Linked DNA regions of Homo sapiens. The protein of the gene in region 1 purifies or fractionates together with the protein of each later gene. This does not show direct contact. Each region holds a gene or a part of one and is shown in the gene's direction. Other genes may lie near its edges.

Region 1 (3,500 bases):
CCAGGAGTTCAATACCAGCTTGAGCAACATGGTGAAACCTCATCTCTATAAAAATGCAAAAATTAGCTGGATGTGGTGGTGCATGCCTATAGTTCCAGCTACTCAGGAGGCCGAGGTGGGAGGATCACTTGAGCCTGGGAGGTTGAGGCTGAGGCTGCAGTGAGCTATGATTTTGCCACTGCACTCCAGCCTGAGCAACAGAGCAGAGTCTGTCTCAAAAAAATAAAAAATAGGCCAGGCGCAGTGGCTCATGCCTGTAATCCTAGCACTTTGGGAGGCCAAGGCAGGCGGATCACCTGAGGTTGGGAGTTCAAGACGAGCCTGACCAACATGGAGAAGCCCCATCTTTACTAAAAATACAAAAAATTAGCCAGGCATGGTGGTGCATGCCTGTAATCCTAGCTGCTCGGGAGGCTGAGGCAGGAGAATCACTTGAACCCAGGAGGCAGAGGTTGCAGTAAGTCGAGATCACACTGTTGCACTCCAGCCTGGGCAACAAGAGCAAAACTCCGTCTCAAAAAAATAAAATAAAATAAATAATAAAAAATAATTTTTAAAAATAAATAAAAAATAAAAATATAGGAGGCTGGCCGGGCACGGTGGCTCACGCCTGTAATCCCAGCACTTTGGGAGGCCGAAGTGGGCAGATCACCTGAGGCCAGGAGTTCGAGACCAACCTGAGCAACATGGAGAAACCCCATCGCTACTAAAAATACAAAATTAGCTGGGTGTGGTGGTGCATGCCTATAATCCCAGCTACTTGGGAGGCTGAGGCAGGAGAATCATTTGAACCCAGGAGGCGGAGGTTGCGGTGAGCCAAGATCACACCATTGCACTCCAGCCTGGGCAAGAAGAGCAAAACTCCATCTCAAAAAAAAAAAAAAAAAAAAAAAAAAAAAAAAATATATATATATATATATATGTATGTGGATGTGTGGGTGTATATATGTATATCTATATATGTATATATGTATGTATATATGTAGATCTATGTATATGTGTGTGTATGTATATATACACACACACATATATACATGGGGCCCAGTGAAATCCGAATTTCAGATAAACAATGAAAATTTAGTATAAGTACGTTCCATGCAATATTTGCAATATACTAATACTTAAAAAAATGCACTCATTGTTTATCTGAAATTTAAATTTAGCTGGGTGTCCTTCTATTCATCGACCCTATACGTAGTAGCGCTGTGACCTTGGGCAGGAGACGTTTCCTCTCCTAGCCTTGGTTTTTTTTAATCCATGGAACGAATATAATGATATCCACCTCATAAGGTGGCTGTGATGATGCAGGAAAGCCGTTAGCTCATGTCAAGTCCCTAGGAGACGTTTGGAAAGTAGGAGTCATTGTCATCACCTTATTCTCACCTGGCCTCTTTCCGGATGTTTCTCCAACAGGTCTTGCAGAAACAGTCCATTGTGACCTTCAGCCTGTGGGCCCCGAGAGGGGCGAGGTGACATATACCACTAGCCAGGTCTCGAAGGGCTGCGTGGCTCAGGCCCCCAATGCCATCCTTGAAGTCCATGTCCTCTTCCTGGAGTTCCCAACGGTGAGTGTCCCATGGCAGGGTCGGGTGGGGGCTCAGAGGAAGCTCCAAGGCAGATGGGGTGAGGGGTGCCTTCCTTGTGGCTGTCCCTGGGGCAGTGGCTGAGTCCTCGTTAGGCCCCCTGCCAAGAGAGTGATGTGGGCATCTCACAGGGCCCATAAGAGGTGGCATTTCTAGGGGCAGGGTCTGGATCAGGGCAGTCTTTTGGGTGCCACCAGAAGACTCAGGTGGGAAGAGCTGAGTAGAGAAGAGCCAGATGGGTGGGGGGGACCAGGTGAGTGTTGCTTATGCACCTCCAATGATGGAGACCTCACAGAATCTCAGAAGAATGCAGCTCCTCTCTAGGGAGCTTGGACTTTGAAAAGTGCTTCTTGGGCCAGCCACAGTGGCTCACGCCTGTAATTCCAGCACTTTAGGAGGCCGAGGCGGGTAGATCACGAGGTCAGGAGATCGAGACCATTCTGGCCAACATGGTGAAACCCCATCTCTACTAAAAATACAAAAATTAGTTGGGCGTGGTGGTGAGCGCCTGTAATCCCAGCTACTTGGGAGGCTGAGGCAGGAGAATTGCTTGAACCAGTGAGTTGGAGGTTGCAGTGAGCTTGAGATTGTGCCACTGCACTCTGGCCTGGTGACAGAGTGAGACTCTGTCTCAAAAAAATAAAAAATAAAAAAATAAAAATAAAATAAAAATACAAAAATTAGCTAGGCATAGTGGCGCATGCCTGTAATCCCAGCTGTACTTGGGAGGCTGAGGCAGGAGAATCGCTTGAACCCAGGAGGTGGAGGTTGCAGTGAGCCAACATTGCACCACTGCACTCCAGCCTGGGTGACAGAGTGAGACCCTGTCTCAAAAAAAAAAAAAAAAAAAGAAAAGAAAAAGAGAAGTGCTTTTCAGTTGAGCCCAGATCTTTCTCCCTGGAATGTCCCCTGCTGAATATCTGTGACCCTCAGAGATCCAAAGGCTGCTGCCGGCCTGGAGACGATTCTCCCCAGGAGACCCCCACTCCCAGCCCACCATCAGTTTGTCTGATACGTCTGTCCTGAATAATAACAACACCTTTGTTAAGCGCTATGTGCTAGAGACTGTGCTAGGGCCGACTCTATGCCAGGAATTAAGCATCTCACATGTATTAAGCCTCCCAAGGCTCATCTGCCAGGGTCTGTTATTATCCCCACTTCTTGGAGAAGGAAACTGAGGCTGGCTGAGAGCGATGGAGTGACGTGCCCAGGGCCAGAGTTCACACCAGATCCCTGGGGATGCCAGAGCCAGCCTGCCACTTGGTTCCCCACGTGGATCTCAGTGTTCAGGTGGCTTCTGGCCTGTTGGACTGGAGATTACACCTGGTTGATGTGGCCTTTGGTCCCGATACTGACTTCGCCGTGTCAGCTCCGGGTAAACTTATGGCCAATCTGCCCCCAAAACTGTTAAGTTGCCTTGCGTTTGTGCAGTGATAAGAAAGTGCTCAGACCACCAATATCGGGGGACCCTGCTCCCCACCGCCCTGCCCTCTACGAGGACTGTGGGCTTTGATAATTTCCAAATCATAGATAGTGCCAAACACACTTTGTGTGGTTTCCATAGGCATTGTCATTTTTTTTTTTCAAATTTGGTAATGATATTCAAAATACGACTGCCTCTGTTAGTTCGCATTGTTTGTTTTAATGTTCAGGTCCCTGTGCCTCCTCTGGGTGACTGGGATCCCCCAACCCTAATTGCTCAATACTGGGCCAGGGTGAGAGGAGGGCCCCTAGGCAGGTGTCTAGGTCTATGGGAGATAGGTGTGTAGATAGCCAGCCAGGATCCAGGGGACTGGTGCATTCTCACGGGGCACAGGGCCAGGGCACTCCAGCTGCTACGGGATTAGGCATGGCTTGTTACGGCCACACCATCCTGAACACATCCGACCTCATCTGATCTTGGAAGCTAAGGAGACT
Region 2 (3,500 bases), on another chromosome or scaffold:
TCCATCTTGCTTTTCACACTTAAATCATTTAGAAGTCATTCAATATCACCATATCTAGATCAATGTTGTTTTTGAAATTGTTGCATATTTCAGGTATAATTATGGTTTATATAATCAATTGCTTCCTGTTGGATATTTAAGATTTTCTTTTTTTGCTATTAACAAATAATGCTTATATCTATATTTTTGAACATTTGTACAAGTATAAATGCATGGTAAATTCCTAGAGGTAAAATTACTGAGTCAAGAGTTTTACATGTTTTGTGAATTTTGATAGATATTGTAAAGTTGTTCTTCAAAGAAGTTTCATTTATTGTTTTCCCACATTTAGCCAACATTAGGTATTATGAAACTTTTTTATATTGGCCAAAACTCACAGGCAAAAGAAAAAGAAAAAAGTCTCATTGTTTTAGCTTGGTATTTATTTGCTTATGGTTGAGGTTAAATGTAGTAAAAATGAAAAACCCAGTACTATAGAAGATAGAGTTGAAGAAATATTCCAGAAAGTACAATAAAAGGAGTAAAATAAAGAGGTTCAAATAGGAGAGTAAAGATAAGAATATTCACTGGTGGAATTATCCAGAAGGTCCAATATGAGAATGATACGAGAAAAAAAGAAAAAAAGTAGGATAGAAAATCATCAAAGACATAGTTCAAAGAAATTTTATATTGAAGGACAGAACTTTCTAGATTGAAAGGGCCTGTTGGCTGGGAAGGGTGGCTCATAGCTCTAATCCTTGCACTTTGGGAGGCTGAGACTGGGGGATCACTGGAGGCCAGGAGTTCCAGGCCAGCCTGGGTCACACAGCAAGACCTCATCTCTGCAACGAAGATAAAAGAAAGGGACTGCCAAGTGCCTAACGTATTGAAGGAAGGCAGACCCCATAATTGTGAAATTTCAGAATACACAATAAACCATTAACCCTAAACATTTCCAGAGAGGAAAAACTAGGTCACACACAAAGGATCTGGAATTAAAATTGTTTGGCTTCTCATTAGCAACACCGGATGCAGAGAGGGAGCAGTCACCTTCAAAGTTTGTGGTGAAAATTGTTACCAACTTAGATACCCAGCCAAACTATCAGTTAAGTGTAGGTAGAATAAAGACATTTTCAGACTTGTAAGGTCTCAAAAAGAGATTTTTCTGGGGAAGGTCTGGAAGAGGTAGGTGATTCAAAGGAACTGAGAAGGAGAATGACATGGGATCTAGTAATATGTATCTAATTCAAAACAGGCTGAAGAACGGCCTAGGATGATGGTAAGGAGAAATTCCAGAATGATACCTGTGTGTCACATATGGGGAACCGTCCAGTTTGGAGACAGTCAGGATGCTCCAGGAGAGAGATCACCAAGGGGATGAAAACTGCAGAACTCCTGATGTATTTGAACATATCGAGAGGACAGTTAGACTATTCCGGAGAAGATTGGGCCTGAATTAGTGTCAATTATATAGGAAACTAACCTTGGGAATAGCAACACAGTATTTCCAGGAAAAAAAAAATGTTTTAAATAGGGGAAAACTTATGGCTTAGCTGAGAATATTTTTATAGGCATAGTAAACTAAACATTGATTATTGTTCTATCCAAAAGGAAGACTTCACTATGTAGAAAGAATTGAGAATGACACTAGTTAAATATTTATGCATTACTGGGTTCAAGATGATTGAAAGATAATTAAATTCTCTTCTTTCATAGTTGGAGATTCATAGCCAAAAACTGTGAAGAATCACAAAGTAGCACTTATTAGAGTAAGTGACTATCAAACAAACGTTAGAAAGTGCTTCTGGCTGGGCATGGTGGCTCATGCCTGTAATCCTAACACGTTGGGAAGCCAAGATAGGAGGATTGCTTGAGCCCAGGCATTCGAGACCAGCCTGGGCAATATAGCGAGACCCTGCCTCAATAAAAAATTAGCCAGGCATGGAGATACATGCCTGTAGTCCCAGCTACTCAGGAGGCTGAGGCAGGAGGATCACTTGAGCCCAGGAGGTTGAGGCTGCAGTGAGCCGTGATAGCACCTCAGCACTCCAGCCTTTGAGACAAAGCAAGACCCTGACTCGAAAACAAAGAAAAATAAAGCATGCTCACAGTTAACCTTAATGAAAATAAAAACTAAATTTTGGGCTGTCAGATGACCTTGTATATACTGTGGAATTTTTTTTTTAATTATTGCTATTCTTTTTTTTTTTTTTTTTTTTTTTTGTGAGTCAGAGTTTTGCTCCCGTTGCTCAGTGTGGAGTGCAATGACACCATCTCGGCTCACTGCAACCTCCGTGTCCTGGGTTCAAGCGATTCTCCTGCGTCAGCCTCCTGAGTAGCTGGGATTATAGGCGCCTGCCATCATGCCCAGCTAATTTTTGTATTTTTAGTAGAGATGGGGTTTCGCCATGTTGGCCAGGCTGGTCACGAACTCCTGACCTGAGGTGATCCACCCGCCTCGGCCTCCCAAAGTGCTGGGATTATAGGCGTGAGCCACTGTGCCTGGCCTATTGGTATTCTTAACTCTTTTTCCTGAAAGTCATGTGTAAAGACAAGTACATATTAATTAAAGGATTCTAGTTAGTGAGATTTTGTTGAACTATTTTAATGAGTAAATTCTAAGAAAAAACATTGTTAAACTTTTTTTTCAGATTTTGTTATGGATGTCAGGGGGAATTGAAAGACCAACATGTAAGTTCTTTGGCTTTCTAAATATTAAGTAATGTACAAGAAATATTGAAATCAATGGTACTATAAGTTTTCAACAGGTTGTTAAAGACCAGGCTCATATCAGTTTATTTCTTGTAAAGATAATGACAATAGGTGAAGGTAAAATAGGAACAAAATAGTTTAAATAGTAGTTTTGTTATTCTGCATTCTAATTTTTGCTATAAAGTATTTTGTAATTCATCTTTTTAAAACTTTTTATTAAAAATTTTTTAATTTTTTTCCTCTTTTTTTAAATTCTTTGATTGTTTTGTCTACTTTGGTACACCCTTGTAAAACATGTAATTTGTCTTTAGCTTTCAAGCTAAACTGCATTTAGTCTGAAAGTATTTAAAATATTTTCTTCATATTATACTTTAAGCTGTGTGATAACACATTGAAATTGTTTAAGGTGGCCACAGATAATAGGTGATTCTTCCATTATGCCAATGAGAAAATACTTTTTTAAATTTTGAAGAGGGCCAACTTTAATAAATAAATTTGTATAGATGTAAATAATATGGATCACTGTCTAGCTTTAATTTTTAATTTAGTTACATGTTCATATTTAAAACTATATATATTATATAAAATAATAATTAGAAGTATTGCTCTTCCACTGTCACAATTTATAAAGTAATTTTATTAAGTTTTATATACCTCTTTGACATCAGTAGTTTACTCTTAACTGGAACCACTTTTTGAATCATTTGACAGTTTTTTGGTTTTATTTTCTGAGACAGACTCTTGCTCTGTCACCCAGGTTGTAGTGCAGTGATGCAATCTTGGCTCACTGCAACCTCTGCCTCCCAAGT
Region 3 (3,500 bases), on another chromosome or scaffold:
ACTTTTTTTTTTTTTTTTTTTTTTTGAGACTGAGTTCCGCTCTTGTTGTCCAGGCTGTAGTGCAATGGCACGATCTCGGCTCACTGCAACATCCGCCTCCTGGGTTCAAGCGAGTCTCCTGCCTCAGCCTCCAGAGTATCTGGGATTATAGGCATATGCCACCACATCCAGCTAGTTTCTGTATTTTTAGTAGAGACGGGATTTTACCATGTTGGCCAGGCTGGTCTCAAACTCCTGGCCTCAGGTGATTCGCCCACCTCAGCCTCCCAAAGTACTGTGATTACAGGCATGAGCCACAGCGCCAGGCCTTACCTTGTTTTTAAATGACAATCTGAGGTCCAGTTGGACCTCCGGTGATAACTGGCAGGTACCATAGTTTTGTGTGTGTGCGTGTGTGTGTGTGTTTCTTAATCAGCGTCTCAGTTTCAATTCTGACTTGGCTTAATCATATTTGAACTTAAAGGTTAATTTTGGTTAACTTAAAAATCTGATGCTTTCAAGAGACAGCTTTGTTGGACCATTTAAAGATCCAGTTGTTTTTTGCCACCCCCCTTTGTTTTATATCTTGTTACTAAAGATGCCAAACTTTAATGTAGCTCCTTTTTATGTATTTTTTAGAATTATGTTTTCTGATTTTTTTGATAATGTTCCATGCTCAAAAAATAAAACACTTGTATAACAGTTGGTTTTTATTATTATGCTCATGAATGAGGGCTTGATGTGGGCTGATCACACTGACTAGTAGTTGGGAAGGAATAAACCTGTATCCGAGTACGAAGTGGGGAACAGGGTTTTACAGGACAAAGGAATAAAAGGCTTGAGTCTCCAAAAAGAACTTAAAGTTATTCTTGGTAGGGTACAGAGTAGAAAGGGTTGTTAAGAGGGTAGAAGGAATCAGAATTGCCTGTAGCCTTCGCTTCTGTTTTGGACTAACTGATAAAAGATAGACTTACTTGCATAGGAATGTAAATTAGATAAGTGAGATAATTTCAGCTCTTTTTTAACTTACTAGCATTGCTTTTATGTGCTAAGTCATGCTTTGATTTAAATATTAAGAAAGTGTCCTTGCTTAAATCAATACTTGATTGAATCGATACAAAAATCTGTGATAAGATAAACCCAGGCGGCCAGATATGATATCCTAAGAACAATGATAGATTCAATGAGGTTATTAGATGTTGATCTTTCATTTATGAGGGCTTTAGCAAACACTGCAGAATATTCAGGTTTTGAGAGATTCATACTTACAAGCATTTAATTTGTTCTTCACTGTCACCCTACAAGGAGGTATAGCCTCTTGTTCTAGTGTGGATTTTTTTTCACAAGCAAACACATTCCTCCCTACTTGTACTTCTGCCTCAACTGAATCATTTTAAGAATTTAGGCCGGACACAGTGGTTCACATCTGTAATCACAGCACTTTGAGAGGCTGAGGCGGGCAGATCACCCGAGGTCAGGAGTTCAAGACCAGCCTGGCCAACATGGTGAAACCCCGTCTCTACTAAAAATACAAATTAGCTGGGGTGTGGTGGCACGCACCTGTAATCCCAGTTACTCCGGAAGCTGAGGTAGGAGAATCGCTTGAACCTGGGAGATGGAGGTTGCAGTGAGCTGATATTGCACCATTGCACTTCAGCCTGGGTGACAGAGTGATACTCTGTCTCAAAAAAAAAAAAAAAGAATTTAGATATTACTTATATTGTAGATGAATGTGATAGGGTCTTTTATTATTATACTTTAAGTTCTAGGGTACATGTGCACAATGTGCAGGTTTGTTACATATGTATACATGTGCCATGTTGGTGTGCTGCACCCATTAACTCGTTGTTTACATTAGGTAATGTGATAGGGCCATTTTTATAACAGGTTAATCAGACTTTGGTTTTCATTTTGGCACATTTAATGTTGAAATGGATTTAAGCAGGGGTAAAATTGGCTTCATCTTCCTTTATTATCATTATAAGGTCACTAGGACATAGTTACATTAAGTTCATTAGAACATAGTTATACCACTAGGACATACTTATACCAGTGTATTTTTTACCCCTTAGCATCAAAATCTGTTACCCAAATTTTACTCTGTAAATAAGAGAAAATATTTTTACAAATCTTAAGAATTCTTTATTCACTTACATGTTGTCTGAATCAACTTCTAATTTGTGTTTTTAAAAATGGTAGTATGGCTGGGCACGGTGGCTCACGCTTGTAATCCCAGCACATTGGCAGGCCCAGGCTGGCAGATCACTTGAGGCCAGGAGTTTGAGACCAGCCTGGCCAACATGGTGAAACCCCGTCTCTACTAAAAATACAAAAATTAGCCGGGCGTGGTGGTGGGCGCCTGTAGTCCCAGCTACTTGGGAGGCTGAGGCAGGAGAATTGCTCGAACCCGGGAGGTGGAGGTTACAGTGAGCTGAGATCATGCCACTTCACTCCCGCCTGGACAACAGAGCGAGAATACGTCCCCCCGCTCCCCTGCCCCTCCACCCCCCAAAAAATGCTGGTAGTTCATAGAATTTAATTGGAAGAGATCTTAGATGATCTGATCCAGTCCCTTTATTTATGGCTAATTTCTCTGGTCTCAGTGTCCTAAAGTCACTCAACTAGTTTGTCGCAAAGCTAGAGATTAGAGCCTAAGTCAGCTACATACTTGTTACCTTTTACTAGTACATGCTGTCTCTCTTGGTCTAGAAAGCAGAATGGAAAGGCTTTCTGTAGGAAGTGTTGCCTTTGGGAATCAGAAATAAGGTCATTTCATTTCTAACTCATTTAGAAGTTGTCTTGAACAGTCAACTTCTAGTTTTGAACTATAAATTTATTGTAAAATTATTTCTTGGAGTGTGCTTTTGGTCTGGATTTTAAATCTATAATGTCTTCTTCTAGTTGGATTGGATGCTGCTGGCAAGACAACCATTCTGTATAAACTGAAGTTAGGGGAGATAGTCACCACCATTCCTACCATTGGTAAGAAAGTTTACAGATGACTTTATATCATGATATGTTGTAAAGTGAAATATATACAGTCTAGTTTTGAGATTGTCTTTTTGTTAAGCATGTTGATTATCTTAGAAGTACTTTTAAAACAGGCCGGGTGTGGTGGCTCATGCCTGTAATCCCAGCACTTTGGGAGGCCGAGGCGGGTGGATTGCTTGAGCCCAGGAGTTCAAGACCAGCCTGCATAACATAATGAGGCCTTGTCTCTGTTGATGTTTAGGCTTAAATATATTTTTTAAAAATAAAAAGAAGTACTTTAAAAACACTATTCTAAGAAAATTCCACAATAAAAGGTTTTATTTTCTTAATGACGCTGCACAGCGGTCATTTTTGTTTTTCTTTGTAGGTTTTAATGTGGAAACAGTAGAATATAAGAACATTTGTTTCACAGTATGGGATGTTGGTGGTCAAGATAGAATTAGGCCTCTCTGGAAGCATTACTTCCAGAATACCCAGGTAAGGGATACTGTATGTTTTTATAACTTTTCTTTGTGGGTTTCATGCTCTAA
Region 4 (3,500 bases), on another chromosome or scaffold:
ATGGTCAGCTGTGTCTGGAGTTATCAGAGAAGCCCTTCTAGGAGGTCCATGGGAGCAGGGGTTAGGGACGAATGGGAATTTGCCAGTGGAAGAAATCCCAGGGAGCAGCCTCAGGGGCAAAGCACAGAGACATTCAGAAGCACAGCATTTACAAGGATTCATTCAAGAGTCCCTTGGCTACGTTTTCAGGGTTGGGGAGAATGTGGGGCCGAAAAGGCTGTGGAGTTGGGCTGCATGGTGGAGGCTTCCTGGTGGCTGAGCTAAGGAGTGGGGGCTCAGCCCTGTGAGTGAGGCTTTTCAGCAGATTGCCTTGTGGGGCGGTGGAGGGGGTACCAGGAGACCGCCACCCATCACAGGGAGTCCCCATAGAATTCCAGCTGACCAGAGGATCTTCCTGCTCGTGGCAGGACCATGACAAGCTTTGAAAGCCATGAGGTAGACGATGGGAGCCCACAAAGGAGGTGGTGACAAACAATTGCTTTATCAGAGAAACATTTTAGAAAGCCGCACAGGCTGCTGCAGGCGCCTGGGAGGGAAGAGTTGTGACCTGGGCCCCACCTCACTGGGCAGACGACGCTTAGTGTAAGGTGATATTCTCCAGTGACTCTGAGTAATGTTCCCAAAAATCTCATTCTCCTATTGCCTTTTCAGACCATTTCAGAGATGTTTTCTGTTTCTTTGTGATTGATCTTGGCTGTGGCTTTTGACACTGTGCGTCTCACTTTCTCTGCCCCCTGACCTCTGGTTAGGTAGTTAATGATCTTTAAACAAACACTTGAGTATTATGGCTCTCCAGGAAAGGTCCTGGGCTCATGGGCCATTAGCAACACACTCTCCCTTTATCCAGGGAGAAAATGAGTGTTCGTACACCCTGACTCGGTAGACAGGGATGCTTGCAACCTAAGTGTCAAAATTCTCTTTAGTTTAACTATTTTTGATGGCAGGTCTTCTGAAATATGTTACATATTTCTCTGCTTCAAATCCATGAACAGTTTCCTCTCATCTCAGAGACAGTGGATCATAGGTAGGAATGTTTGTTCATTTCAGGAACTTTTATTGGAGACTTTTCTATGTCTGTTCCTGATTTACAAACTGTGAATGCAGAAATCTGCCCAGTATAGTAGTCAGTGATATTTTAGAAACAGAGATAAGATCAGGTTACTCCTTTGCCTAAACTCCTCCAGTGACTTCCGGGCCTTGCACTCTACTGTGGGGCCCGAGCCTTGACCTCTGTGTTAGTCCGTTTTCACGCTGCTGATAAAGACATACCCAAGACTGGGTAATTTATTTTTTAAAAAAAAGAGGTTTAATGGACTCACAGTTCTGCGTGGCTGAGGAGGCTTCACAATCATGGTGGAAGGCGAAAGGCACGTCTTACATGGCACCAGGCAAGAGAGAGAATGAGAGCCAAGTTAAAGGGGTTTCCCCTTATAAAACAATCAGATCTAGTGAGACTCATTCACTACCAGTATGGGGGAAAGCACCCCTACAATTCAATTATCTCCCACCAGGTCCCTCCCACAACACATGGGAATTAAGGAAGCTACAATTCAAGATGAGATTTGGATGGGGACACAGCCAAACCATATCAGCCTCCCTCCCTGCTGTCTCCCTCCCCACCCTTGCTGTAGCCCTCCTGCCTCGGTGTATTCCCAGACTCACCAAGCTACTGCCCTCTTAGGGCTTGCACTTATCAGTTGCCCCATTTAGAGCTGTCTTTCTGTGGGTCTTCACACAGCTGTCTGCTTCTTATGCTAAGGTCTTAGCTCAAATTCACTTCTTCGAGACCTTTACCCCACCCAGGCCTTCTCTATCACATCACCTGGCCTTGTTTTCTTTATAGCATATGTTGTCTAATATAGTCATATAATATTAATGTAGATTAATATTATATAATTATATTAATATATATTTGCATGCATGTAATTTATATATTAATTTTATATTGATATGAATTGAATTAATATATATAATTTTTCCTATATAGGTAATTTTGTTGTTGCTGTTGTTTCAAGATATTAAGCTCTTTGGAAACAGAGGTCACTGTATTTCTTCCCCTAGAACAGTGCCTGGCACACAATAGGCACTCTGGGAATATGTGTTGAATGAATGAAGAGAGATCCTGCCCTAGGCTACCCACAAGCCAGCAGGCAGCAGATACACAATAGACAGTGACCATGCAGCAGGCTGTGGGATTCAGAGGGGCTGGGTTACCACTAAGGAGTCAGGGTCAAGTTCTGCCACTGGGAGTTGGGACAGGCTTTCCAGAGCAGTGGTGTTTGTCCCGGGCTTTAGAGGGCAAATGGGCACAGCTTGGCCAGCTGAGCAGCTGGGGAGGCCATTCTTGGGGGAGGAGGCAGGCAAACCTGGACAGAGGGCTGGAAAATGCTAGCATGATTGATGGAAGGGAGGAACTTGGAGGGACTGGAGCCTGGATTGGAGCAGGGGTGAAGGGAACTAAGGTAGTCAGGGATTTGGCTGCTATGACCCCTGCCTTTCCCCCAGAAGAACAGTGAGACTTGGAGAGTGGGGCCCTGGCCCTGCTTTGCTGGCGGCCCTCGGCCTTGTGCTTTCAGTGTGGTACCTGCTCTGGTCCAGAAGAGTGTGCCTGGGCCCCAGACCCCCCTTGGCTGGTCCTCACGGTGCCTGCAGGTGGTGGTAAGCACAGGATTCTCTAGCTGCAGCTCCCCTCTCCTCCCCACAGCCCCGAGGCTTGTTGGTTTCATGTGCTCTCTTGCTTACTCCCCATCAGGTGGTGAAGAAGGTGAAGTCCATGCAGATGTTCCACATGCCCATCACTTCAGCCATGCAAGGAGACCGGCTGGGCATCTGCGTCACCCAGTTTGACCCTAAGCTGCTGGAGCGCGGGTTGGTGTGTGCCCCCGAGTCCCTGCACACTGTCCATGCGGCCCTCATCTCTGTGGAAAAGATACCGTATTTCCGGGGGCCCCTGCAAACCAAGGCCAAGTTCCACATTACAGTGGGCCATGAAACAGTCATGGGCCGGTTGATGTTCTTCAGTCCTGCTCCAGATAACTTTGACCAGGAGCCTATACTGGACTCTTTCAACTTCTCTCAAGAATACCTTTTCCAGGAGCAGTACCTGTCCAAGGATTTGACACCAGCAGTGACAGACAATGATGAGGCCGACAAGAAGGCCGGCCAGGCCACAGAGGGCCATTGTCCTCGGCAGCAGTGGGCCCTGGTGGAGTTTGAGAAGCCCGTCACCTGCCCTCGGCTGTGCCTGGTGATTGGCTCCAGGCTAGATGCGGACATTCACACCAACACGTGCCGGCTAGCCTTCCATGGCATCCTGCTCCACGGGCTAGAGGACAGGAACTACGCCGACAGCTTCCTGCCCAGGCTGAAGGTGTACAAGCTGAAGCACAAGCATGGCCTTGTGGAGCGGGTGAGCATGCCCTTGCCTGGCCCCACACCCCTTCCCTTCTTGCTCGGGCAGCTGGGATCCATGGCCTGACATCTGTGATGAGAGCCAGAAA
Region 5 (3,516 bases), on another chromosome or scaffold:
CTCCTGAGTAGCTGGGATTACAGGTGTGTGCCACTGCGCCTGGCTAATTTTTGTGTTTTTAGTAGAGACAGGGTTTCACCATGTCGGCCAGGCTGGTCTTGAACTCCTCCTGACCTCAAGTGATCCACCCGCCTTGGCGTCCCAAAGTGCTGGGATTCCAGGTGTGAGCCACTGTGCCTTGCCTTGTTATCAACTTTTTTTGAATTGCATAAGTAACAAGTGAATAAATACATTTATCTTGGGAAAAAGTAAAGTGTTGCCCATTTGGCCACATCCCGGTCTGCTTCCCCACTTCCTTCATCCCTGAAATCCAGACACTTCCCCGTGATTTGCTTTGTAGTTTGGGCCCCACCTGGTAGGGTAATGGTGCACTGGGGGATAGTAGGCAGGACAGAGAGGTGAGGAACTGCCCAGGTCAGGGGAAGCCCTCAACTCTCATCTGTATCTGGAGGGAGGTGAGGCAGAGCAGGAGGGCACTCATGGGCCCACTGAATGCCAGGGGTTGGAGGAAGCCCACAGAGCCCAGAGTTGTTAGTGCTTCTGCCATTTGTCCCCAAGGGGCAGGACCCTCCTAGTCAGATTGCTCAGAGGCCCACTATGCTGGCAGTAGCTTGGAGGAGCTGGGAGGTGCCTGTGCCCTGGTCTTGGGAGCATACACCTGAGGTGGGATGGAGGAAAAGCCACCTGTGGCTCTGGCTAGGCCGGGACCCAGAGGACATCCTCAGAGCCCAGGAGCCCTGGGATTATGTGAGAAGCCAGTCCTCACTTTGTATGTATCCAGGCAGCTCTCTGGTCTTGTAGTTATTGTCAGCATCCATGCTTCCTGACTGACTGTGGCTGGCTGCCTCCTGCTGTCCCATTCTTGGCCTGTGGGGAATGCTTCATCCTGGGAAACCCAGGCCCCTCCTCCAGAGCTGCCTTTGCAGGGTCTTCACCTCTGGCTGGTTGCGGGCCACACAGAGGTGGGAGCAAGGAAGCCTGGGGTCCCGTCTCTCCCTGGGGGCCACGGTAGGCAGTGTCCCTGCAGAGTGGCAGCGCGTTTTCCACAGGCCTTCTCTGTTTAATTGCACCCTCTAGTGGAGGAGAAGGTGAAGGAGCAGCTGGAGGCCGCCAAGCCCGAGCCCGTCATCGAGGAGGTGGTGAGTGCCTGGACCACCCTGGCATCCTCGCTGCTTCTGTGTGTCCTGTTTCTCTTCGCCACTTGCTCTCCCTCTGCCCCCCATTCCTTCTCGTCACTTCTTTATTCCCTTCCCACCAGCCCCTTTGCTCTCGTCCCTCTCCTTCCTCCTCCTCTTTCTCCCATTTCCCTCCTTCTCGAGCCTGCCCTCCCCCTTGTCCTGGGGTGGCCCCTCCACCCTGATGTGTGTCTCCTCCCTTCCCAGGACCTGGCCAACCTCGCTCCTCGGAAGCCTGACTGGTGAGTGTTGCCCGTGCGTGGCGGGTGCAGGCTGACTCGGGGACTCTTGGTGCCAGCATGGGCCTGGGGCTTGGCCCTTCCTGCCGTCACAGTGCAGAGACTGGCAGTACAGACATAGAGTTACACGAGATAGCTACTGTTGGAAACCAGTGCTGAGGAGGACATAAGTGGTGGGATGAGAGGGGAGTGATGGAGTGGGGCTCAGGCGCGGGGAGCAGCAGGCCCCTCATGAAGGCCCTCCTGAGAGGTTGAGAGCCCATCTGCTCCAGAGCTCCCATTTGAGCAAGGCCAACCGCTGTCTTTGGGGGCCAGGAGTGGAGGGAAGGGCAGACACAGTTTTCTGTTCCTGTTCTACCACCATAGCTTGTTCCCTCTGGCCCTGGTTTCCTCCTCTGTGAAATGGAGGTCGTCATCCTTCTTGCTAGGCTGAGAGAGAGTGGGAGAGAGGGTGCTGTGGGCCGGGAGGCTTGTGTCTGTCTTCACCTTGAGCCGGAGGTAGAGCTATATCCCTCTCGCCTGATTCTTGGTCGAGTTAACACCAGCTGTTTTAATTTGATGAAACAAAAGCATGGGGCATATGTCCTGGGAAACCCAGAGCCAGAGAGAATGGGCTGAGTGCTTGTGCACTTCTGGGTGCCCACAGTGGAGGGGCTGGGCCGGTGGCTGGAGGAGGAGCAGGGCCCACAGTGGGCAGGAGCAAGTCACTCCCTGATGGTGACCAGAGGACCAGAGCAAGAGAGGGTCTCTGAGAAACCATCCACCTTTGCCTTAGCTCAGTCCCTTGTGTTGGGTGGGTTTGTGATGCTAGTCCCCCTGCCTCAGTGGGACAGGGAATGATGGTTTATGCTGGGTTTCGGAGGGTACAGAAGGGGAATGTCCTGGCCTCTTCCCCAGGGCAGCCCCCTCCAGCAACCGAGCATGACTCCTAATGCCAGAGGGCTGCAAGAGGGGAGGGGACCCAATGCCACATCAGGCCAGCCTTCACCTTCCTGCTTCTCCCTGCCTCCCTGCTCCAGGGACCTCAAGAGAGATGTGGCCAAGAAGCTGGAGAAACTAAAAAAGCGGACTCAGAGGGCCATTGCCGAGCTGATCCGTAAGTGCAGTGCCTGGGAAGGTGGGGTCCTGCCCACTGGGTGGTGGCCCAAGCACCGGGCCCCTCCCCACCCCTTCTGTCTGCCATCCATCCCAGGTGAAAGGCTGAAAGGCCAGGAAGACAGCCTAGCCTCTGCAGTGGATGCTGCCACCGAACAAAAGACCTGTGACTCCGACTGAGGCATGCCCTGCCCCACCACTCGCCCATCAGGCCTGTCCTGCAGAGGATGGTCTTGGGCAGGGATGGGGGCTAGGCTTGCCATCACCTCCAGTTTGGCTTCTGAGCAGAGACTCCCTGCCCATCAAGTCTGAAACCCCCATGGATGAGGTCAGCTCCTTGTCTGCTGGGTGGCCCCTGCCATTCTGAATGGAGGCAGAACCAGCAACAACTCTGGGCGTGCCTGTGTCTGCACATGTGGATGTACATATGTCTGTATATATGTATATATTTTGAACTTTCTAAAAAAAAATCTGGAAATAGAAACAAGTAAACCCCTGTGTGTGGCAGAAATGTGTCAGATATTTCCTAGGTCTGAGGGTGCAGTGGATTTGGGCTCCACAGGATGGAGACAGGGTGACTGCAGAGCTGGTACTTAATATGTATGAATAACCCCTGTGTTGGGCTGGGCATGTTGAGGCCGGAGGGGTGGGAAACACTCAGGGCTGCCTTCTGCGGCCAAGTCCTGGCCCAGTCCATGGTCAGTGCTGGTCATCTCAAGATCCTTGGGTGATAGAGACAGGGTCTGAGAAAGTCCTTTTAAGACCTCCCCCAGACCTAGGCCTTGTAGTAGTCTATGGAGTAGCTGGAGAGGCTCCCACCCTGGTCCTCTGGGGATCCTCAGTGTGAGAGAGACTGGGCCTTGGCAAGCCCCAACTCAGGGCCACTCCAGATTTGATGCCGCTGGCACTGCTTTCCCCACTCTCCCCAGCCCCAGGCGGCCTCTCTCCCTACTCCACCAGTCAGAGCTAGACTGTGGCTCCCCTAGGACAGAGACCCTGCATGGGAG
Region 6 (3,500 bases), on another chromosome or scaffold:
CTCTTCAAGACCTTGCTTTCCATTCTTTTAGAAGTGTATCAGAAGTGGGATTGCTGGATCACGTGGTAGTTCTCTTGTTGATTTTTTGAGGAACCTCCATACTGTTTCCATAGCAGCTGCACAACTTTACAATCCCATTTTACAGTGCATATTTGTCCCATTTTACAGCTGAGGAAACGAAGCACAAGTGGAAGAGCAGAGGCTCCTGGACTCTGTGATTCCGGGCAGACCCCTTCCCCAGCCTACCCCCTGGGCTAATGAGAGGCAGTGGGTATTTAGTCGGGGATGCAGAAGCCGCAGACCGACCTCCCCTTCCTCCAGGGAGACTACAGGCAAAAGCATGTAAACCCCTTTCCATTGCCCCCCAACCACAGCCGCCCTGGAGGGAGGGCCAGCGTGGACACCAAGGAGGCTGAGGGCGCCCCCCAGGTGGAAGCCGGCAAAAGGCTGGAGGAGCTTCGTCGTCGTCGCGGGGAGACCGAGAGCGAAGAGTTCGAGAAGCTCAAACAGAAGCAGCAGGAGGCGGCTTTGGAGCTGGAGGAACTCAAGAAAAAGAGGGAGGAGAGAAGGAAGGTCCTGGAGGAGGAAGAGCAGAGGAGGAAGCAGGAGGAAGCCGATCGAAAACTCAGAGAGGAGGTAAGGCGGGCGCTAGCCCACTGAGAACGTTGCCCGGGAAAATTCCCTAGTGCCGTGCGGCTGTTCTTTTGAGCATGGGCTCTCAAAAATATTTTTTTAAGAATAATAAACTTACCATGTGCTAGGTACTGTTTTATAACTTGTAGATGTATTAATTTGTCCACTGCTTCTAAGAACTCGCTGACCTAGGTACTAATCCCCATTTTACAGATGAGAAAACTGAGGCACAGAGAGGTTTTGTTTTTGTTTTTGTTTTTGTTTGTAACTTTCCCAAGGTCTCCCTTGAGTCTGCCTGACATGCAGGAGGAGCCCCATCATTAAAACCCTTTACTGCCTCTCAAAAAGGAAAAGTTAGAAAGCTGAAAAGGATGAAAGGTCTGCAAATTAGTTACCAGAATGAAGTTATGGTTTTCTAATAGTTGGAGAGTTTTTATAGAGAAGATTTTTTTAAATCTTTTTTTTTTTTTAATGAGCAAGTAAGTACATTAGAATATAAAGAGGCAGGGACAGTATCTGCGTTGTTCATTACTGTATACCCAGGACCCCATACCGTGCCTGACATGCAGGAAGAGCCCCATCATTATAAACAGATGGATTTGTTTCATCTTTTAAGACAGAGCTAAAAACAGCAGATAGAGTTACAAGGAGGAACATTTTGGCTCAGCATATGAAATAATGTTTAACCAACTACAACTTACAGTACTACAGTTTACAAAGTGCATTCTTTCATTTCATCCTGAGGTACATCGTTCTCATTTTATGGGCAAAGAAACCAGGAATCAAATAGTTTGAGTGACTTATTTGAAGATTCTTGACTAATAAATGGTAGAATCAGTAAGGAGACCCCGCTTTTCCAACTCAGAGCCCAGAGCTTTTGAGATAGCGATCTCCCATCATTCAAAATATGAAGAAAAAAAAAGACTTTCAATGGCATTTTGACAAGGATCCTATGCAAAATTTTCCTGAACTGTATGGAAAATTTGGATACATTATTTTGAGGTCTCTTTTAACTCCAACTTTCAATGAGCCAATGACCTTTGGTTGGGAAGTATGGGAAGTAATCAGGATGATAGAGTTTGGGGGTTAAACACACCCCAGGCTTTTTTTTTTTTATTGTTTTTTTAGACATAGTCTTGCTCTGTCACCCAGGCTGGAGTGCAGGAATGCAGTGGTGCAATCTCGGAACACACCCAGTCTTCTATCCTAACTCTGTCACTAACAAGCTGGGGCCTTGGGAAAACTGGACTACTCTGTGTCTTCTTTTCCTTATCTGTGAAATAATATCTACTTTGCAGGATTCTTCCAATAATTTAATAGATCATTGTGCTCCCAGTGCCTGGCACATTCTAGGCACTCAAAAATTAGTAGGTATCATTATTGCCATCATTGTTATTATGATTATTATTCAGAGGAGGAGAGTATCAGGAAAGGCTGAAGAGAAATCACGAAGTCTTAGAACTGGATTGGACCTAGGAGATTATTTGGGCTAAACTACCAAACACAGGATCCTTCTGTGACATCCTCTGACAGATGAACATCTAGTCTCTGCTTGAGAACATGCAGTGATAATGATCTCACAGCTTAAGAACTACCAAAGACTGCATTAAATCTCTCAGAAAATCAAGTTGTGCAACTTGATCAGAGCCCTGATAGAGAAGACAGAGTATTCTAGACTAGGAATGAAGACACAGAGGGGTTAATGAGACAGTCTGTAAACATTTGCAATTGCACTACCATGGTTCAACGTCTAGAGCATTTCAGGTTTGTCAAACCATCTAAAATTATATATTCACTTGAAGCGGGGAGCAACCATAAAATCACCTCTTGTACCATCTGGCAAATATAGTACCACAGATTTAGATAGCTTTTCACATAAGTTATTCATTTGTCTTCACAACTCTCCTAGGATGTAGGTAGAAGGAATATTCATATCCCTTTTACATATACAGAAGTGTGAGGTCATTGTTAATGACCCACAGGATGGTGGTGATTATGTATCATCCTATGGGAAATCATCATAATGAGTGTTAGTCTAAGCCAGGGGTGTCCAATCTTTTGGCTTCCCTGGGTCACATTGGAAGAAGAATTGCCTTGGGCCACACATAAAATACACTAACACTAATGATCGCTGATGAGCCAAAAAAAAAAAAAATCACAAAAAGGTCTCATAATGTTTTAAGAAAGTTTACGAATTTGTGTTAGGCTACATTCAAAGCCATCCTGGGCATGATGTGGCCCCTGGGCCATGGGTTGGACAAGTTTGGTGTAAGCATTTTACATGTGCTATCTCACTGAGCCCTCACGAAAGCCCTAAAAAATGAGTACTATTGTTATCCCTGTTTTACAGATGAAGAAACTGAGCCACAGAGCAGATAAATAACATGGCCAAGGTCAGGCAGTTGGAAAGTAGCAGCACCAGAATGCAAATGCAGGCAGCTCGACTCCAGCTCTCAGGCTAAACCTCTGGTGACCACCTAGAAGGGGAGTGTCCAGCCTGCGGCCTGAGTCTGCTGCCTCTCCAACTGTGCTCTCTCTCCTACAGCACTCTTCCCTTTGGCTGTGAAGCTGGTACTGATGCCTCGTTATTTGTTCTTTCTCTCTTAGGAAGAGAAGAGGAGGCTAAAGGAAGAGATTGAAAGGCGAAGAGCAGAAGCTGCTGAGAAACGCCAGAAGATGCCAGAAGATGGCTTGTCAGATGACAAGAAACCATTCAAGTGTTTCACTCCTAAAGGTTCATCTCTCAAGGTATTTTTTTCCCCAGAAAACTTCTATTAGAATATGATAGAGACTGGATTTTAGCCCCTTGTTTAGTTATTGATTATACAGGGCCTTTGTTCATTTATCTTTTTGCTATCCTTCCAAGT
Region 7 (4,082 bases), on another chromosome or scaffold:
TTTAGGGAGTCCGAGGAGCAGGAGCAAACACCCCAAGGTGAGCGCCATGTGATGTATTCAGAAGGCAATGGAAAAAGGCCAGTGTGGCTGTAATGTATTGAACAAAGGGAAGAGTGGCTGGACCTGCAGGGATAGGTCGTCTCAAGGAGTCTGGCTTTTACCCTGAGAGCAATGGGAAGCCATGGAGGAGTTGCAAGCAGGAGAGCACCTGATCATATTGACACACGTGAACTTTTAACCTGACCTCCGTGTAGAGACTGAGGGAAAGGAAGGCAAGACCAGAGGCAGGGGGACACCAGCAAGGAGGCTGGTCTTCGGGGCCAGGTCTGGACTAGGGTGGTGGCAGCAGGCACAGGGAGAAGTGGGTGGACTGGAGGGCCATGGAAACACCACATTGGCAGGCCTTGATGAAGGAGAAGCAGCTGGTCCATTCTTTTGAGCCTACCACCCTGGTAGGCCAACTCCTGGCCAAGTCCATGCCATTTCTTGGGCTGGCTTAATTGTCTCCCTGTTTGGGAGGCCGTGGGGTGAGGGGTCTTTCCTCCATGCTCTCTCCATCCTTAGCCCCAGCCCAGGGCCTTGCACACAATAAAGCACTCGGTGAGCACCAACGCGTGACACAGGTACATCAAACCGCATTGGCTCTGGGAGTCTGGCTGTATCTCGTCGCCCAGCCTGGGAGATAGCCCCGTTTGCTGTGCCTTGTGAGCCCCGGGTCCGTCCCAGGATGGCCTTCCACGATGAGCGGCTCCCTCACTCTTCTCCTCCTTTCCTGCCTGCAGGACTTCCTGGATGATCTCAGCCGCCAGCCCCCCGCCCCCCTCCCCGCCCCTGTCTGGGATCTCCATCTGTAAAATGGATCTAGGAACGGTAGTTCTCGACTGAATTAACCCGACAGCATCTGTGGAAGTCGTTGGCCCTGTGCCGGGGCCAGATCGCGCAACTAGGAGCGGGGGCCCTTCACGTGGCGGAGGCTTCCCGGCCTGGGGGCCACGGGCCCGGAGGAATTTGCCTGGAAGTTTTCCATCACGGCAGAGCCTTCTGGAGCTCGCCCCGTGCTCGACAAGGGGAGCCCCAGACTTGATTTCTCCAGCAGCCCCGCGGGGCGGGGCCGAGAAGGGGCGGGCGGGCGGAGGACGCTGGCGGGAGAATGTGCGGAATGTGCCAGGCGCCTCTACCTACCCCAGGAGGGGCAGAGGAAGGGGCCGGCCGAGGGGAGGGGCGAGGGGCGAGGCTCCGGGCGGCCGGAGAAAACCTGTTTGTTCTCCTGCGGGCGGAGCCCAGTCCGCGCCTCCTCGCCTCCCTGCGCGCTCCCCGCTGTGCACCGCGCCCCGCGCCCCGCGCCTGCCTCCCCGGCCCGGCCCGGCCCGGCCGGGCGCCGTCCACCCGAGGGAGCCCGCGCCCTGCGACTGCCCGACCCTCCACCCGCCCCACGAGCCGGGCACCGGTGCCAGGTAGGGCTGTCGAGTCGCCATTGGATGCGGCCCTGCTTGGAGGCAGTGGGGGGCACCCAGTCCGTGCCCAGCTGGGGACAAGTCAGGGCCTCAGTTTCCCCATCCATAACCCTTACCAGCTCCAAGCATCTCTCTTCGGGTTCCCCCCGGGAGTCAGTGGATTTCTGGTTTTCGCTGTGAGTGAAAAGACTGACAGGCAGAGGAGGCCAGCGTCCCCTACAGAGGCAAGTGTCCCCCTTGCCAGCCTGATCCCTCTGTCTTGCCCTTTAGGAAAGACACGGTTTAATTGTTAGTAAACGGCGAGGGGCCAGGATGCTCTGAGAGTTGACTGCAGGCCTTTAAGAATCAGGGAATCTCATATCCCTCCGTCCCCCTGTGCCCATTTTATAGATGAGGAAACTGAGACCCAGAGGCTGGCTCACCCAGAGGATCCCCTCAATCGCCCTGGGGCCTGTGAGGTGCATGTGCTGGGTACAGGGCAATCTTGGGGAGGGCCATGAGGATGGTGGCTGCTCACACTCAGACAGAAGGCGCCGAATCAGGTGTCACTGGGTGTTATCGACAGGATCGGCACTGCACCAGCTCTGTGGCTGGATTGTTTTGATGGGGGCAGAGGGAGCCAAGAGTCTGTCCTCTTTGGAAAGGCAGAGGGATACCTTGCCTTACAAAAAGGCCGAAAGCTCAGGTGCTCCTGCCTGATCTGCCACTTCTGAGCTGGGGACACCTGGGTACTCTGTCGGTTTAAGGGGGTGACACGTCAAGCTGCCTCCCACCCAGGGCTGCTGGGGACTCAGATAAAGTAGGTGGTGGGTGTGTCCCGGCTTTGGGACATCTGAGGCATGGTAGGAGTTGTGTTCTTGCTGAGCCGTCGGCACGAAGCCTTGGCATCATGGGAGGCCCCAAAGCTGTGAGCCCCGAGAGAGGGCCTCTCACACCCCATCCAGCAGTGCTTGAGGCTTCAGTACCTGGACTAAGTCCTGCCTTGGTCTCATGGCCCTTCAGACTTCTGGCTGTCGTACCTGGCTGGGGGCGGGAGGCAGGGGTGCACAGGTTGATAGGCCTGAACAGAGCTGCAGAGGTCCTGCCTTCCCAGGGCCTCCGCTCCTCATCTGAAAAACAAGGGGCAGCTCAGAGGCCAGCAAGTGGCCAAGACACAGATGCACAGATGAGGGGCCAGCCTTCTGGCAGGCCTTGGTGCCTCCGCTGTTCCCCTCATCGCTCCCAGGCCACTTCAGGATGGGAAGGAACAGATCCCTCTCACCTGCCCCTCCTTCCAGCAATTCCCAGCCCCTGGCTGGATGCTGTGCATTCAGCCGTGTGGAGCTGATGGAAGGCACTCAGTGCAGGGCCAGACACGCAGCAGGTGCTCAAGATCTGTTCATTTCCATCCTCTGGACACTCATGACTCAAGCAACAGAGGTGGCCCAGGACCACTTAGGATGTTGCAGCTCCGAGTAGCATGAAAACATTAGGGGTTCCTCAGTCCTGGAGCAGCGAGGCACCCCTGGCTGGGAAGATCAGGGAAGGCTTCCTGGAGGCGAAGGGCTTGGAAGCAGGAGGAGGAGCTCGGCAGCCACCAGGTCAAGGCCCGCACGTCCTTTGGAGCTGCTGGAGTCTAACCTCCCCGTTACTCCTGAAAGATCATAAACCACTTCTTGCTGAGCTCCTGCATATGGGGGCCCACAGAGAAATCAGCTCCATGCCTTGCCCTGAGGAGTGACAGAGAGGCCATCTGTCAGTAAGAAGTTGCCATCTGAATCCAAATGGCAGCAGTGCTTGTCCACCTCACTTCCTGCTCAGCTCAAGTCCAGACTCCAGAAAAAGCCTTTCCCACGTGAGGCCAGTGATGCCAGGGGCAGCCAGCGCCTCAGCTCAGCCTCCCTCAGCCTGACTTGTGCTCCTTGTCTTCCTGCCCAGTGTCCCCAAGGCCTCCTGAGATCTGGCAGGGCAGGGACTCTGGGTCCCTAGCACTGGGCCCAGGACCTGGCCACGATAGGCATCGGCACTTGTTCCCTGAACTGTCTTCAGTTGCATGCCAAGCAAACTCCCCCAATTCTGGCTCGGTGCATTCTGGAAGCCAGAAGCCTGCCTTCCTCCTTCCCTACTCAAGCTTCCACAGGTGACTGCCCCCTTTGGTGCGGGTTTTGCTTCAAGCCACAACTTATAAGGTGCCAGGTCACATGTAACACAAGCTTTCCTTCTGTTGCTGAGCCCTGAGGCTGCCCCCACTGCCAGTCCCTGGCGGCATGGGACAGGACCAGTGCCAGAGAGGAGAGCTGCTCTCCAGTGCGGCAACCCCTTGCAGTCCGGGCCTTTGGGCTCTCATGTTTAGGGTCAGTCCAGGGACTTTGCATTCGTTACCACTGTGCCCATAGTGAACCGGCTGATGCCAAGACAAGGGCAGTGCCATCAGGGGACCAGTCCCTGAGAGATGCTCAGGAGAGGTTGCCATCATTGCTTCCAAAGGCCGGGAAGAGGAGGAGGGGCTGAACTGTCCCACACCTGGTCAGGTGTGTGGCAGGTGAGGGTGGCACCTTCATAGCCTAGTGGTTAAGAGAATGGCTCAGAGGTCAGCCTGGGTTCAAACCCCAGCTCAGCCACCATCCAGTTGTGCAAAGTTCGGCCCTT

Evidence for each region.
Region 2: the proteins of ENG (region 1) and GTF2H2 purify together in Homo sapiens (affinity purification with mass spectrometry; one large-scale study listed by BioGRID and IntAct). This does not show direct contact.
Region 3: the proteins of ENG (region 1) and ARF4 purify together in Homo sapiens (affinity purification with mass spectrometry; one large-scale study listed by BioGRID and IntAct). This does not show direct contact.
Region 4: the proteins of ENG (region 1) and EEFSEC purify together in Homo sapiens (affinity purification with mass spectrometry; one large-scale study listed by BioGRID and IntAct). This does not show direct contact.
Region 5: the proteins of ENG (region 1) and CCDC12 purify together in Homo sapiens (affinity purification with mass spectrometry; one large-scale study listed by BioGRID and IntAct). This does not show direct contact.
Region 6: the proteins of ENG (region 1) and CALD1 purify together in Homo sapiens (affinity purification with mass spectrometry; one large-scale study listed by BioGRID and IntAct). This does not show direct contact.
Region 7: the proteins of ENG (region 1) and ZNF185 purify together in Homo sapiens (affinity purification with mass spectrometry; one large-scale study listed by BioGRID and IntAct). This does not show direct contact.

Annotation. Positions count from the first base shown.
Region 1 is NC_000009.12:127,841,159-127,844,658, reverse strand, and holds part of ENG (endoglin isoform 1 precursor), read left to right. Parts: intron 1-1,413; coding exon 1,414-1,565; intron 1,566-3,500. UniProt on the Homo sapiens protein: Vascular endothelium glycoprotein that plays an important role in the regulation of angiogenesis. Required for normal structure and integrity of adult vasculature. Regulates the migration of vascular endothelial cells.
Region 2 is NC_000005.10:71,036,677-71,040,176, reverse strand, and holds part of GTF2H2 (general transcription factor IIH subunit 2), read left to right. Parts: intron 1-1,695; coding exon of another isoform or gene 1,696-1,747; exon of another isoform or gene 1,748-1,748; intron 1,749-2,630; coding exon 2,631-2,670; intron 2,671-3,500. UniProt on the Homo sapiens protein: Component of the general transcription and DNA repair factor IIH (TFIIH) core complex, which is involved in general and transcription-coupled nucleotide excision repair (NER) of damaged DNA and, when complexed to CAK, in RNA transcription by RNA polymerase II.
Region 3 is NC_000003.12:57,583,845-57,587,344, reverse strand, and holds part of ARF4 (ADP-ribosylation factor 4), read left to right. Parts: intron 1-2,880; coding exon 2,881-2,961; intron 2,962-3,337; coding exon 3,338-3,447; intron 3,448-3,500.
Region 4 is NC_000003.12:128,338,481-128,341,980, forward strand, and holds part of EEFSEC (selenocysteine-specific elongation factor), read left to right. Parts: intron 1-2,505; coding exon of another isoform or gene 2,506-2,658; intron 2,659-2,752; coding exon 2,753-3,409; intron 3,410-3,500. UniProt on the Homo sapiens protein: Translation factor required for the incorporation of the rare amino acid selenocysteine encoded by UGA codons. Replaces the eRF1-eRF3-GTP ternary complex for the insertion of selenocysteine directed by the UGA codon.
Region 5 is NC_000003.12:46,921,230-46,924,745, reverse strand, and holds the end of CCDC12 (coiled-coil domain-containing protein 12), read left to right. Parts: intron 1-1,077; coding exon 1,078-1,139; intron 1,140-1,382; coding exon 1,383-1,417; intron 1,418-2,433; coding exon 2,434-2,510; intron 2,511-2,606; coding exon 2,607-2,689; 3' UTR 2,690-3,016; downstream 3,017-3,516.
Region 6 is NC_000007.14:134,947,134-134,950,633, forward strand, and holds part of CALD1 (caldesmon), read left to right. Parts: intron 1-374; coding exon 375-636; intron 637-3,240; coding exon 3,241-3,381; intron 3,382-3,500. UniProt on the Homo sapiens protein: Actin- and myosin-binding protein implicated in the regulation of actomyosin interactions in smooth muscle and nonmuscle cells (could act as a bridge between myosin and actin filaments).
Region 7 is NC_000023.11:152,896,785-152,900,866, forward strand, and holds the start of ZNF185 (zinc finger protein 185), read left to right. Parts: upstream 1-1,282; 5' UTR 1,283-1,454; intron 1,455-4,082. UniProt on the Homo sapiens protein: May be involved in the regulation of cellular proliferation and/or differentiation.